2 linked regions of the Homo sapiens genome follow. The protein of the gene in region 1 interacts with the protein of each later gene in a biochemical or structural test. Each region holds a gene or a part of one and is shown in the gene's direction. Other genes may lie near its edges.

Region 1 (7,789 bases):
AGCATTGGGCTGGGCTTGGAATAAACGGTAAGAAGCTAGGGGAACAGCCCTTCTGACAGCAACTACCTCAGGGCAAGGGCCCCGAAGCAGGCCTAGCATGGCCAGTTAAAAGGCAGGAGGAAGAGTGGACAGGCTTGAGCATAGAGAACGGAGCCAGGAACTGTGTGAGGCCGAGAGTGGGCAGCAGCTGAGCCAGGTGGGCTTTTGCAGGCCAATGAGTATTTGTGGAATGCATTAACTCTCTGAGAAGTGGAAACCAATATTGGTCAAATTAATATGCAGCTATTGAGAGAGTCCTGAGGAGCTGGAGGAAACAGAGGGAGTCAGGGGTGCCCTGGGAGGCTGGAGGGATCACAGGCCTAGTCCCGGAACCTTGGCTATGAGTTTCAGCCTGATCCTCAGGCCCTGGGCACCCATGGGAGGGTTTTAGGCAGGATGACATTATCTGGATTTGCACTTTAGAAAGGTAGGTAAATAATGCCTCACAAACACCTTCCATGTGTCACACACTCGGCCTTTAATCCTCAAAACCCCCTGAGGTGATGGGGGTGGCATTCCAGCACTTCCCCACCTCTACCACATAACAGTGAGGGTTTGGTGAGCCAAACTCATGAGCTCAGATGAGCAGGAAATTGCCAGAAAAAAATAGGCCCAGTTCTGTGGTACTCCCAAAGATCCTCTTACAGTGACTTTTCTCTTCTAGGATCCCATCAGGCTCCTTGGAAAGTGCTTCTACTTCCGAAGCCAACCCTGAGGGGCACTCAGCCAGCTCTGACCAGGACCCTGTGGCAGACAGAGAGGGCAGCCCGGTCTCCGGCAGCAGCCCCTTCCAGCTCACGGCTTTCTCCGATGAAGACATTATAGACTTGAAGTAACAGAGTTGAATCTCATTTGCCATCTTTAGTTTTCTTATGGAGGTTTATACTCTTTAAACAGTTCTGATGTAATTTCTCAACAAAATGTGGCTTTTAGCCTGTCAGTGATCTATTGGACCAAACCTTCTGCACACTCGGCCAGTTCCCTCTCCAATGTCCGGTGCCATCTTTCCTGACCTTTGTTTCTTTCTGTTCAGGAACCATCAGTCCCCTTGTAATAAAGGTGGTAGATTTCATTGAGGTTTTAGATTGAAACTTTGAATAAATCAAAAATACTCATTCTTATTTACTGCAACCTTCTCATATTTTATATACTTAGATGGAAAATTATTTTTTCATTACAGTTTTGATTTATGTCACATAATGTGTTTCTTTTATAAAGAAAAGTCGTTGCTTTTTAACTTTATTATAAGTAAGTTTTTTTTCTGCACCTTTGGCCCCGGTTGCTGTTTCAGTTCACCGTGATTGGAACCAGCTGCATTCCTGCCTGTAGACTTTTGAGAAAAGTTGAATGGTTAGATCTTAGAAGCTCCTCCTTCTTCCCTGCATCTCATGAAAAATATTAAGGCATAGGAGCTTGTCAAAAGTCTTCAGATTATTTTGTGTGGTTTTATTGTTACTCTGCAATAATGTAACCAGAGAACAGCTACTCCTTGTGGTTAAAAGTATTCTCATTGTAATCCCAGTGCTTTGGAAGGCCAAGGTGGAAGGATCCCTTGTGCCCAGGAGTTTAAGGCTGCAGTGAGCTAAGATTGCACCACTGTTCTCCAGTCTGGGCAACAGAGGGAGACCCTGTCTCAAAAAAAAAAAAAAAAAAAAGAAAAGAAAAGAAAAAAAAAAGAAAGCATTTTCAAACTCCTCCTTCTTTTTGAGTCCCCCTCACTCTTTCACATAAATGATATGAAGATAATAATTTGGTTTATCTGCCTTTCCTGGCTCCCTCTCCAGTGTGAACAGAAAGAAATGTGGACTGGGCCAAGTGCAAAAGAAATAGTGAAATCTCAGCCACTAGCCAAGGGGAGATCCAGTTTCACTAGCATTGTTTGCAAATATTTTAATCTGTGTGAAGAAGGTATTTTACCTTTGGCTTTAGTCTAGCCAATTCAATTTTATTCTGTCTCTTCCTACTTATATTATTACATTATTCATCAAAGGAAACTTCCTGTTACCCCGTTAAAGCAGCTCAGAAGAGTTCTTCTGCAGGCTTTTTTTTTTTTTTTTTTTTAGACAGAGTCTTACTCTATTGCCCAGGCTGGAGTGCAGTGGCACGATCTCGGCTCTCTGCAACCTCCACCTCCCAGGTTCAAGCCATTCTGCTGCCTCAGCCTCCTAAGTAGCTGGGATTACAGGCACGCATCACCACACCCAGCTAATTTTTGTATTTTAGTAGAGATGGGGTTTCACCATGTTGGCCAGGCTGGTCTCGAACTCCTGACCTCGTGATCCGCCCACCTTGGCCTCCCAAAATGCTGGGATTATAGGTGTGAGCCACTATGCCCGGCCAGCAGGCCTTCTTTGTGAGTGTGGAGAACTGAGTTTGACAGGACCTTGGTCTGACAGATTTTATAGAAGTTTGGGTCGTACCTCCTAGTGGGCCTTGCACACTGTGGGGAAAGTTCCCCTCTCTGTCTTTTGTACAAACAGATCAGCATGATAGCCCAAGCTGAAGGTTGCTTGGTTCATCTTTGGCAGAAGGCAAGAGTCAAGAGTAGTAAAGACAGTGCTTTTTAGGTATACCCAGATGGGGCTGTTTATAACCAAATGTGTCTGCTCATATTCTTTGCAGCAGTTAGCATGCCCATTCTTCCTTTGTGTGTTTTATGCCCTTTTCCTATATAGGGGGAAAAAAACACTGTGTCTCAACCCCACCAACAGTTTAATGAATTATGTTTTATTATTCTTGCTTTTCAAATAAGGAAATAGGCTTAGGAAGGGGCAATGGTTTGAACCTGCAAGTTCTTTGACTCCAGAGCCCTTGCTTTCCCCACGTCTGCCATGCAGAGCCAGGCTCAGTGCCTTGTGTCAGCTGGATCTGGCTGGTGTTTTTCATGTTAAACTAATTTGTAAGCTTTATGAGCTTGTATCTGTGTTTTTCCTTTTTTTCTGGAAGTTTCTTGCTTCACAGTGTAGCATAAAAAAAACCCAAGGACTATTTTAGAGCATTCTTCCAAATCAGCAGCATTAGAGCCACCCACAATTTGACAAGAGTCACAGGTCTGAGGAGTGATGTAGCAAGGGCAAGAGGTGGACCCTACTGATCAGGCTGATGGTGCTTTGCCTATGAAAAGGGGGCAGGAGGCTGTTCTGGCAACATTATTTGTCTACAAAGGCCAAGAAGTGAGTTCTGCACACTCACGGGAAGGGAAGCCATCGGCCACAGGGTAGGAGCACCCTGCCTACATAATCCTTTCTGTGTACCCGACTGGCTGAGTCACACAGAAAATCATCTAACTGCAGTGTCTGCCTATGGAGTTGGAGGCATTGATCCACTCTGCACACACCAAGTGCCTCCTCTCCAGAGGAGGTCATGTCCATTGGGGGAAGGACGGAAGTAAACAAGGGATCACAAAGCAGTGATAAATGCTGTGATAAGAATACACATCTAGTGCTCGAGTTATCAAGCATTAGATGCTGTGGGAGTACAGAAGGGCAGTTGCCTAAGTCTTTAAGGATAGGCTTGTGGTCAGGACTGAAAAATGTTGGTTGCTAGAACCATCAAGTGACTGCAACATATCAGATGACTGTCTTCATCATACCGGTTAGCCTTTGAGTGCTTCACATGTCTTATATACATTACCTTGCTTCACAACTCTCCTGGAAGATAATGGTCATCCCCACTTAGAGATGAGGAAACACAAGGCCCAGAGAGGGATTACAAGCCAAGCCTCTTACTCCCATGCCCTGGCTCTTTCCAGAATTACACCAGCATTCCACCACAGCTGCCTGCACCCAGAGTGTTGGGTATGAATCGGGTACAACTGGTGAGATCCAACAGTGCCTCATCATTCGACTTGGGTGCACACGGGAGAAGGTGGCATTAAAATCCACAGGGAACTCAAAATATGGAGGCAGGTAGATGAAGATTCAAGAGTCAGGACTCCCTGTGAAGTGAGTGACACTTAAGAGGGGGAGTGGAGCCCAGATCTGTCACACATACGGCGTGGGGGACCCCACCTACCACTGGTCCTCAGCACCTGGAGACCCGAGCCTTCAGCAATCTGGGAAGCATGAAAGTGGGTTTCGGTGCACAGGGCCACGCCTCCGCCGCCAGCAGCCCAGCGGGAGCGTCTGACCAGTCTCGCCCTCCGAGAGGAGAGAGAGGCGGCCCAGGACGGTCTGCTTAGAGGCTCTCTCCCCTGCAGAGCTGGGCCCAGGCATAGGTCAGACGCCTCCAATACAGTCCCCAGGGCAGCGATTAAAGCGGAGCAGGAACTGCAGACCCGACCGGGCAGGACAGGTGCAGCTTCTCGGAGTTGGGGGCGGGAAGTCTCGGGCTGAGGCCCACGTGCTTCGCCTTCGCCCCGCCTCTACCCTCATTGGTTGAAGCCAGATTGAGAGGAGGTGCCAGAAAAAAAACTCCTCCCTCCAACCTCATTGGCCAGCTCAGTTCTGAGGCAGCTCTCTGGCCCCGTCTATGGGCTCGCACTACACTCCAATTGGGTGGTTGTTCTCCCAGACGGAAACTCCGCCCCACCTGTACCTTGGACCGCTCCGCCCTAGGGGCGGTTCCAGCGCGCTTCGCTAATCGGTTCTATGCTCCCATTGGTCTGCTTTAATGTGAAGGGCGGGTCCTAGCTGATTCGCTAGCCCCGCCTTGCGTTCCTATTGGCTGCTCCTGCTCTGCGGTTCCGATCCCGCCCAGCACCGTCCCCCACCCCCCGCCGCCCATTGGCTGCGAGAGGCCGGTGCGGGCCGCACTCGCAGGGCCCGTGGCGGTTCAGGCGCCAGAGCTGGCCGATCGGCGTTGGCCGCCGACATGACGCCCGAGGACCCAGAGGAAACCCAGCCGCTTCTGGGGCCTCCTGGCGGCAGGTGAGCTCCGGGGAACCCGGGCCCGGATGCGGCCTCGCCCTCCCGCCCCTCCGCGTCCGCTCCGCTCACCCTCGGCCCTGTCCCCCCAGCGCGCCCCGCGGCCGCCGCGTCTTCCTCGCCGCCTTCGCCGCTGCCCTGGGCCCACTCAGCTTCGGCTTCGCGCTCGGCTACAGCTCCCCGGCCATCCCTAGCCTGCAGCGCGCCGCGCCCCCGGCCCCGCGCCTGGACGACGCCGCCGCCTCCTGGTTCGGGGTGAGGCCCCGGGCTCGCTCCTCCCGCCCTGGGACCCCACGCCCTCCTCTCGGGACGGGCATCGGGACCCTCCGCCCCCCACCCTTCCCCTCGGGACAGGCATCGGGCCCCGCCGCCACCACCTTTCCCCACGAGACAGGCATTGGGCCTCTCTGCCCCCCATCCCTTCCCTCGGGACGGGCATCGAGCCCCTCAGCCCCCACCCCTCCCCTCGGGACGAGCACCGGGCCCCTCAGCCCCCTACCCCTCCCCTCGGGACGGGCGCGGGGCCCCGGCTCTTTTACCTCTGAGCCCGCGGGGAGTGGGTGGAGGGGGAGGATGGGCTGCGGCTTCGGCGCCCCCTCCTCAGCAGCCGCCCGCCTCCAGGCTGTCGTGACCCTGGGTGCCGCGGCGGGGGGAGTGCTGGGCGGCTGGCTGGTGGACCGCGCCGGGCGCAAGCTGAGCCTCTTGCTGTGCTCCGTGCCCTTCGTGGCCGGCTTTGCCGTCATCACCGCGGCCCAGGACGTGTGGATGCTGCTGGGGGGCCGCCTCCTCACCGGCCTGGCCTGCGGTGTTGCCTCCCTAGTGGCCCCGGTGAGTGTCCCGTCTCTCGAGTGTCCTGTCTCGCGGCCTGAGACCGAGGGGGAGTGGGACAAACCGCTCCCCAGGCCTGGGGGCGCGGCTCCCCCTGGCGGGACCTTCTGGGTGCCAGGCTTGAAGTCCCTGCGTTATCTCGCGGTCCCTCCCGTCGACCCTGGGAAGGATCCTACTGTTCTCTCCATTTTACACTGAGGTCATGACATGCAGTCTCGGAAAGGTGAAGTCCTTTGCCCAGGCGAGGTCCACAGCTAGTCAGAGGGGAAGCAGTTGCAGGAACCCAGGGTTGTCCCACTTAGCCGTGCCCCTCTTTTGCTCTGCAAACCTGCGGATGATCCACAGGAGCCCACTCCCTACATTTTGGTTTTCATCCCTGGCTTCGGGTCAATGACTGCAATTAGCAGGAAGTTCCTGTCCTGATTTCTCTTGGGGCAAAGGCTGCTGGCCTCTGTGTTCCCCTTCCCTTCTCACAGGCCAGCCCCTCTGGCTTCCCCATCTTCCCCCTTTCCCCCTCCTGACCCAGGCTGCCCACTTGGGAGCCCCGAACATCTGGGTCAAATCCTGGTTCTGCCACTAACCTGAGCAGAGTGCCTCCCTGGGCCTCAGTTTCCTTCTCTGGAAAACAGGGATTATGGCATTAGCCCCTGAGGTAGTGGTCAGGATTCAGTGGGACTTTGGATAGACAGCCCCTGGCATGGCTTGTAGAGGACTGGATCCTGACAGCTTGGTGACCCATGAACTGCCCCCAGCCATGGGCTTGGACAATATCTCCCCCAAGTGAGGTTGAAAGCAGCCACTCAGGCCCCTCCCTGGGTGCTCATTTCACCAACGTTTGCTAACCGGCAGCAGCAGCTGGACCAGAAGAGGGTGGGGAAGAAGCTGGGCCTTTTATGTCTTTGGTTTTTTTAACTGGGCAGAAACACACCTGTGTTAGGGGCCTAAGCTATGGAATAACCTTAGATGCATGGGTGAGGGCCTGGTGGCCTGTGGGCCCAGGAGGGAGCTAGTGGCAGCCACTGGTAGTGACCGAGGCAGAGAGTTCGTGCTTCTAGTCCAAGGCCACCACTCAAAGCGTGGGCCCTGGGCTAGGATCCTGGGTGGGCGTCACGTGGAGCTGGTTAACAAGGTGGAATCTTTCGCCTGTCCAGACCTACTGCATCGGAATCTATGATTTATCCAGGGTGTCTGTGCACATTAAACGAAGGCTTGAGAAGCTCTGTGCCCACCGCCTCTCGTCATCATATGCAGCCCTCTCCGTTACCCTTAATCCCCTTTAAACACCTGCCACAGATCTTTCAGTGGTGGGGACCTGGGGATGGCTCTGCTCACCTAGGCAGGTTCCACTAAGGGGCTTCAGGGCCTGCCGTAACCCCCTGCAAGGACTTTCCTCAGCTCTGAATGGCTGAGACCTTTCCATTTTAAGAACTCTTGGAGCCTGAGTAAAGCCTCATCTTTTTTTTTTTTTTTTTAATTTTTATTTAAAAATTTCGGAGTTTCGCTCTTGTTGCCCAGGCTGGAGTGCAATGGTGGGATCTTGGCTCACCGCAACCTCCACCTCCAGGGTTCAAGTGATTCTCCTCCCTCAACCTCCTGAGTAGCTGGGATTACAGATGTGTGCCACTAGGCCCAGCTAATTTTGTATTTTTAGTAGAGATGGGGTTTCTCCCTGTTGGTCAGGCCAGTCTCAAACTCCCAACCTCTGGTGATCTGCCCGCCTCGGCCTCCCAGAGTGCTGGGATTGCAGGCATGAGCCACTGCGCCCAGCCATAAATCCTCATCTGATTGCTGGCAGGTCTACATCTCCGAAATCGCCTACCCAGCAGTCCGGGGGTTGCTCGGCTCCTGTGTGCAGCTAATGGTCGTCGTCGGCATCCTCCTGGCCTACCTGGCAGGTATAGTTGTCATTATCTCTTGCTTCCTGTTTGTGGTCATGTGGCCATTTTACAGATGTGTAAACAGAGGTTCAGTGAGGTCAAGGGACTTGTCTGAGGTCACATAGCCAGTGCCCAACATGCCAGGCTCGCCTTCCTGGGACCTTGGGATAGGTGAGTCTT
Region 2 (7,000 bases), on another chromosome or scaffold:
TCATGGACCTTTCTGCCAGTGCTGCTGTATGCGCTGGCTTTCGTGGAGCAGTTATTGCAGAGCCTACAGTTTTGTTAGTGTTTGGGTCTATTTGTGCTTTTATAGTATCAGATTTGTGCAGGTTTTCTTTTTGAGATGGAGTCTCCCTTTGTTGCCCAGGCTGGAGTGCAGTGACGCGACCTCAGCTCACTGCAACCTCTGCCTCCCGGGTTCAAGCGATTCTCCCACCTCATCTTCCTGAGTAGCTGGGATTACAGGCACCTGCCATCATACCCGGCTAACTTTTGCGTTTTTGTAGAGACGGGGTTTCACCATGTTGGCCAGTCTGTTCTTGAACTCCTGACCTCAGGTGACTGGCCTGCCTCGGCCTCCCAAAGTGCTGGGATTACAGAAGTGAGCCACCGTGCCCGGCCTGTCTCAGTTTTGTAAATGCTTCCAGCTGGGTACACAAATGTGAATGAACTATATTAAAAATGCTCTCATGATGTATGGGTGCAGCCGGGAGGGGCAGGGTGGGCTGCGGGCCACTGGAGACTGGTGAGCACCGTTCTGTCTTGCCCAGAAGACCCTGCAGTGCGAGGCCGCCTGACTGAGTGCCTGGAGACCATCCTGAACAAAGCCCAAGAACCGCCCAAGTCGAAGAAGGTCCAGCACTCCAACGCGAAGAATGCCGTGCTCTTCGAGGCCATCAGCTTAATCATTCACCATGACAGGTGTGTCGGCTGCCTGTGGAGAGGCTTCGTCTCGCGCACACACACACGTTCCTTCTCGTTGGCACGAGACTGGGCGGATCATGTCTGGTTTGTCCACTCCATGGGCCTCCCCTTCGTCCTGCCTCTGTGCTCCCTGCCGGATGCTTTTTTTCTTTCTGTGCAGCCCGGCCCCTCCTGCTCTGAGCTCACCGTGGATTGCTTTGGTGACTGTGGTCTCATCCCACACGAGGGCCTTTTCCTCCTTCCCCTGAGCATCCCCACTCCTGACTGGCTTCTCATGTAGTGGAACAGAGAGGAGACGGGTGGGGTGGGGGGTGTGCGCGCATGTCCCGTGGCTTTGCTGGATGTGGAGCCGCACTTGGTGGGTCCAGGGTCGCAGGGCAGTGCTGGAAACGTCTGTGCCCATCCACGAAGCGCAGAGGCGCAGGGTGGCGGTCGCTCCACACAGCCTGGAGGGTCTGCCTCCTCTGCTCCCACGCCTTCTCTGCTCAGCAGTTGCGGCGCACCACATGTGGTCTGGCGTGGGTCTTGCGTGTGGGGCCATGCTTTAGGGTCCTGTGAGAATGAGATCGCAGTTCTCACCAGGCTCCCAATAATGAGGGCACGTGCCAGGCTGTGGGCAGACGCTCTCTACAGCTTGTGAACACCACCCATTTGCTACTACAGCATTTTTACAAATGATGAAAACTCAGTCTGAGAGTCACACTTCAGAACTGAGAGTTATTAAAACTGAAATTTCCCATTTTGGAGAAAGCTCTGTTGTTATGTGAGGAGAAGCCACATCCTGAGGAGACAGTAGAGTCAGTGGGGCAGCAGCCGCGCTCCCGGCCTTCTCGGCCTTCTCCCTGCCCTGGGCTGGTGCCTCTGGCTGAGACCCCATTGCCGGTCACAGCTTGACCGGCCTCCCGCGGGCCTGATGCAGATTGAGGCTCAGGAGGTGCTGGGAAGGCTCCAGTGGACACACGGGCTGCTGACTCACTGTGGGGATGCACAGGATGGACACAAAATGGATGTCAGGGGTGGGGGTCGGGCGTCATCTGCATCTGGGGAGGCCCCCGAGTTCCCACTTGAGCAGTGTGGTGGCGGTGAGTGCCGTGTGACTTTGCTGTCTGCCATCTGGACCCGTCGGGGAACGCAGACTCTGTCCAGTTTGTGTTGCACTTGCTGAGGAAACCCCACCCACTTCCCCTCCCTCCACACAGTGAGCCGAACCTGCTCGTCCGTGCCTGCAACCAGTTGGGCCAGTTTCTGCAGCACCGCGAGACCAACCTGCGCTACCTGGCCCTGGAGAGCATGTGCACGCTGGCCAGCTCTGAGTTCTCCCATGAGGCTGTCAAGACGCACATCGAGACGGTCATCAACGCCCTGAAGGCGAGTGCCCTGTCCTTGGGTTCTGCTCACTCCCTGAGCAGGTGCCGTGGGTCTTCCTGTGAAGGCTGGGGGTACGCAGTGCCTCCTGACTCCCCGCAGAGATGGAGGTGGTGCTGGTGCTGCTGGCCTCCGCCTGTCACCTACTCTTGGGAGGTCACACCACTGTTGAGGGCCATGCTGCCTGGAGATGGCCGGGTTGGCCCTGCTGTCCTGGTTAGGCTGAGCAGAGGAGTCTCTGGCAGCCCTTTCCCTGCTGGGGGCAGCCCCCGTGTGCCATCCTGCGCGTGCATAGTGCTGACAAGTAGAAATGGTTCTTCTTGGTAGAAAGATGAAATTTTTTTCCCTTATCTCCAAGAAAATCCCCCTTTTACAAAGGAAACTCACTTTGTTCGGGGATTAAAATTTCAGAGTTGGGGCCGGGCGCGGTGGCTGACGCCTGTAATCCCAGCACTTTGGGAGGCCGAGGCGGGTGGATCACAAGGTCAGGAGATCGAGACCATCCCGGCTAACACGGTGAAACCCCGTCTTTACTAAAAATGCAAAAAAAAATTAGCCGGGCGTGGTGGCGGCCGGTGCCTGTAGTCCCAGCTACTCAGGAGGCTCAGGCAGAAGAATGGCTTGAACCCAAGAGGCGGAGCTTGCAGTGAGCCGAGATCGCGCCACTGCACTCCAGCGTGGGCGACAGAGCGAGACTCCGTCTCAAAAAAAAAAAAAAATTTCAGAGTTGGAAGAGCCCAGTTGAGGTTGGCCATTGCCAGCCTTTGCGAGTCTCCAGAGCGACCCCGAGGGTTCGTTCCACATAGGGGACCCTGCGGTGTGTCCACCAAGTCCCTAGTCACCGGTGCACATGCGTTAGGGAGTGGGAGGCGGGGAGCTGCATGTCCCCCATCTGGCTCAGCCTCAGGCTGTGGCAGGGCTGCTCCCAGTCCCCCGCACGTCTGCGTGCAGCTCACAGATATTCCGGGTGGTGTGCAAGGGGCTCGTGGTGGGCATTTGGTATTCTGGATTCTTCTTGGTCCTGGTTTTGGTGTTTGTTTTAGTCAATCCCTATTGTCAGAAGGGCTGGACACTCATTTGCACACGGCCAGTGCTAGCGCTGGTGGTGCCCACTCTCCTGCCTTTGTTGGGAGCAGAGCTCGGGCTTTCTCGTGCTGCAGAGCCTCCTGGGGGCCCATCAGCACGGGCTCTGGGGTGGGGCGTGAGGACCTGCCTTGGGGCAGCTCCGTGTCCGAGGCAGTGGGGTCTTTGGCTGCATGGAAGGGAGTCCTTGATGGCCTGCACCAGGCAGTGCGCTCAGTCCTAGCGAAGCTGGCCCTTGTGGAGGGCAAGGGAGGCATGGACGAGCGGGCAGAATCCAGGCAGTGCGCTGGGTCCTAGCGAAGCTGGCCTGTGCGGGAGGGCCGGGCCAGCAGGCGGAACTCTATTCCGGGCTGTCCAGACACACGTGGCCCGAGTGCAGGTCGGCTCCCTGGACCTGGATGTGCATGTGAGGGAAACTCAGAGTGGGTGTTGAGATGCGGGTGCCGAGCCTGTCCCCAGCCTGTCCCCAAGCTTGTGCCTTGCTCCTGCGACCTCTTACTCTGTGCCTTGTTCCCCAGACTGAGCGGGACGTGAGCGTGCGGCAGCGGGCCGTGGACCTCCTCTACGCCATGTGCGACCGCAGCAACGCCCCACAGATCGTGGCCGAGATGCTGAGCTATCTGGAGACAGCTGACTACTCCATCCGAGAAGAGATTGTGAGTTCTGGTGGCCTCTGAGTCCTCTCCTGCCACAGGCGTGAATCTCAGCGGCAGGATTTCCTTCGTGCTCTGCGATTCCGTCCAGCAGGACTTGATTGAGAACCCATGAGATGCTGAATACAAGGCTCCTCTGCCTCTGTGTTTTCATCCACATTTTCAAGCTGGGTGTGGTGGCACCTGTGGTCCCCGCTACTCCTGAGGTGGAGGCGGGAGGATCACCTGAGGCCAGGAGGTTGAGGCTGCAGTGAGTCGAGATCATGTCACTGCACTCTAGCCTGGGCAACACAGCGAGACCCTGTCTTAAAAAAAAATCAGCATTTTTGGTAGAGTCGTTTGGTCTTGAAAATAACTATTGGCCGGGTGTGGTGGCTCACGCCTGTACACCTTGGGAGGCCAAGGCGGGCGGATCACCTGAGGTCAGGAGTTCAAGACCAGCCTGACAAACATGGGGAAACCCTGACCCCGTCTCTACTGAAAATACAAAATTAGCCGGGCGTAGTGGCGCATGCCTGTAATGCCAGCTACTCCGGAGGCTGAGGCAGGAGAATCGCTTGAACCCGGGAGGCGGAGGCGGAGGTTGTGGTGAGCCGAGATTGCGCCATTGCACTCCAGCCTGAGCAACAAGAGCGAAACTCTGTCTCAAAAAAAAAAAAACTAAAATGCCCGTCCTGCGCGGCTTCTGTGGCCTGCCTGTCCTTGCAGTGGTGGCACTGTAGCCCCAGGTCTGAGTGAGGCTCCAGCCGTCTGCGCTGGGGCTGCACAAATCCAGACTCCTGTGGGCAAAATTCTTTTAATTGTGTTGCATTTTGAGCCCTTGAATTAATCCTTTGTGGCTTGGCTTTTTTGGGTGTCCCTCTTGATCTCTGGGAAGGACGGGATCTAGGCCATAGCTTAATGTCCCGTGTTGTTTTTATTCACAAAGTAGGTGTGCACACTTGCCAGATAGCTGAAGCTCATCAAACCTGTACGTGTGAAAGACTGAGCATGAACCAAAACCTGAGGGAAGAAACCCTTGTGGAGGCCACATGGTCAGCAGAGAAGAGGGCCTGAGGCCTCCACCACACTCACAGGCCTCTCAGGCTCACCGTGTCTGTGGATGGTGGGGTTTAAGGGGGAGGCCCGGTGTCCTCGCGTGGGGTTCGCCACTGTGACCAGCCAGGACCACAGCCTCTTGTTGAGGCTGAGACAGCGCCTCCGTTGTATAGAAAGCGCTTTGTTATTTGTTTTTTTTGGGCGAAGTGCGGCTCAAGGCCTCCTTGGGAGCTTTGCCGAGAGCCAGTGTTGGAGCTAGTGGCAGGTGACAGGGTTGCTCTGGGCAGGTGTTGTGTGGTCATGCCCAGGTGAGAGACTCGGGTTTTCAGGGGTCTTTTAGTGAACGGAGGAGCCCAGGTGCTGGGGCTTCAATGCTGAGGGGTGAAATTACCATGGACTGAGCTTCAGTGAGGCACTGCAGACCTGCAGAGAGCAGGGGCCAGGAGGCGGCTCTCACGCTGGACTGTCCACCCTCCAGGACAGTGGGCCTGGGAAGTTGAGGGGGACAGGGACGGGGTGGGCTGACTCCCGGCAGGAGGCCCCAAGGGCAGGCACCGTGGTGTAGGGCAGGGCTGTCTGTAGAGGGGCCAGGCAGGTGCTCGTTGACTGTAGCCAGTGGTCCCTCTCTGGCCTGGCTGGGGCAGTGTGGCCTGGTGTCAGCACTTGTGGTGGGGTGGGGCTGGCTCTGGGGACGGCCGTCACGGGAGCCTCGTTCCTGATTGTTGTTCTGGGTGTTTTGAACAGAGACAGAAGCAGTGTGCTTCTGAGTGCAGTTGTGCAGATTTTGAGGTCCTGGGCATTCGTCAGCCCGGTGTCTGCTCTCGCCCCTCTGCGTGATGAGCGGCAATCCTCAGCCAGCTCCTGCTGTGAGGAGTAAGACAGGTGCTGTGTCTTGGCCTGCATGATGCTCCCCCCAGCCCGTCCTTTCAGCCGGACATGATGCTCCCCTCACCCCATCCTTTCAGCTGGGCATGGTGCTCCCCCACCCCATCCTTTCAGCTGGGCATGGTGCTCCCCCCACCCCATCCTTTCAGCCGGGCAGGGTGCTCCCCCCACCCCGTCCTTTCATCTGGGCATGGTGCTCCCCTCACCCCATCCTTTCAGCTGGGCATGGTGCTCCCCCCACCCCATCCTTTCAGCTGGGCATGGTGCTCCCCCCACCCCATCCTTTCAGCTGGGCATGGTGCTCCCCCCACCCCATCCTTTCAGTCGGGTATGGTGCTCCCCCCACCCCATCCTTTCAGTCGGGTATGGTGCTCCCCTCCGTCCTTTTAGCCGGGCATGGTGCTCCCCTCCATCCTTTCAGCCGGGCACGATGCTCCCCCCACCCCGTCCTTTCAGCCGGGTATGGTGCTCCCCTCCGTCCTTTCAGCCGGGTATGGTGCTCCCCTCTGTCCTTTCAGCCGGGTATGGTGCTCCCCTCCATCCTTTCAGCCGGGCATGGTGTTTCCCTCTGTCCTTTCAGTCGAGCATGGCAGGGCGTGTTCTCTGGCTGTGCTAGGTGCTAAGTGTCCAAACTGGACATGGCCCACTCCCTGCCTACTCGGCACCTTGCCATCCATGGAGGGGGACGGATTGAGAGCAGGACCGTGGGTTGCTGTGCTGTGGGTGGGATGGCTGGAGGAAGTGCCTCATGTTCTGGGGGCCTCAGGAGGCATTACACTCCTGGGGGGCTGTGTGGACTTCTGCAGAAGGTGATAGTGGCCTGGTCTGGAGAGGATGATGGTGCAGAGGCTACTGGGAGGGCAGAGCATCCGTTCGTGGAGGGGTGGGAGGTACCTTAGCACAGGCTGGGGAGCAGGGCACGCGAGGCAGGGGTGGAAGCAGACATGGGGACCCTGCCAGTGAGGCCTGAGGGCCCCTGGTGCACAGCCGTGAGCTGCGGGTAGGGCTCAGAGGCAGTACATTTTGGAATGATGCCCTGGAAGTGTCACGGAGTCAGGTTGGGGTTTGGGGGTCCAGGCTCCAGGCAGGGACTTGGGGTGGGGGGGCACAGTCACCAGCACCTGAGAGGCCAGTGGCAGGGTGTGGAGAGGGGGCGGCAGGGTGTGGGGAGGGGCGGCAGGGTATTAGGGGTGCCCTCGGGAGGTGCGCGGTCTTGATGCCTGCTGGCGTTGGTGTTGGCAGCTGGCGCTGTTCGAAGGG

What was found. Proteins that work in one complex are often made in the same cells at the same time.
Region 2: the proteins of SLC2A8 (region 1) and AP2A2 form a complex in vitro, tested with the Homo sapiens proteins (one study listed by BioGRID).

The regions. Positions count from the first base shown.
Region 1 is NC_000009.12:127,392,380-127,400,168, forward strand, and holds the start of SLC2A8 (solute carrier family 2, facilitated glucose transporter member 8), read left to right. Parts: upstream 1-4,789; 5' UTR 4,790-4,851; coding exon 4,852-4,907; intron 4,908-4,996; coding exon 4,997-5,159; coding exon of another isoform or gene 5,160-5,525; coding exon 5,526-5,732; intron 5,733-5,792; exon of another isoform or gene 5,793-5,934; coding exon of another isoform or gene 5,935-5,955; intron 5,956-7,527; coding exon 7,528-7,627; intron 7,628-7,789. Other genes in the region: GARNL3 (GTPase-activating Rap/Ran-GAP domain-like protein 3), read left to right, coding at 704-875.
Region 2 is NC_000011.10:984,870-991,869, forward strand, and holds part of AP2A2 (AP-2 complex subunit alpha-2), read left to right. Parts: intron 1-562; coding exon of another isoform or gene 563-565; coding exon 566-713; intron 714-1,915; coding exon 1,916-2,084; intron 2,085-3,682; coding exon 3,683-3,820; intron 3,821-7,000. UniProt on the Homo sapiens protein: Component of the adaptor protein complex 2 (AP-2). Adaptor protein complexes function in protein transport via transport vesicles in different membrane traffic pathways.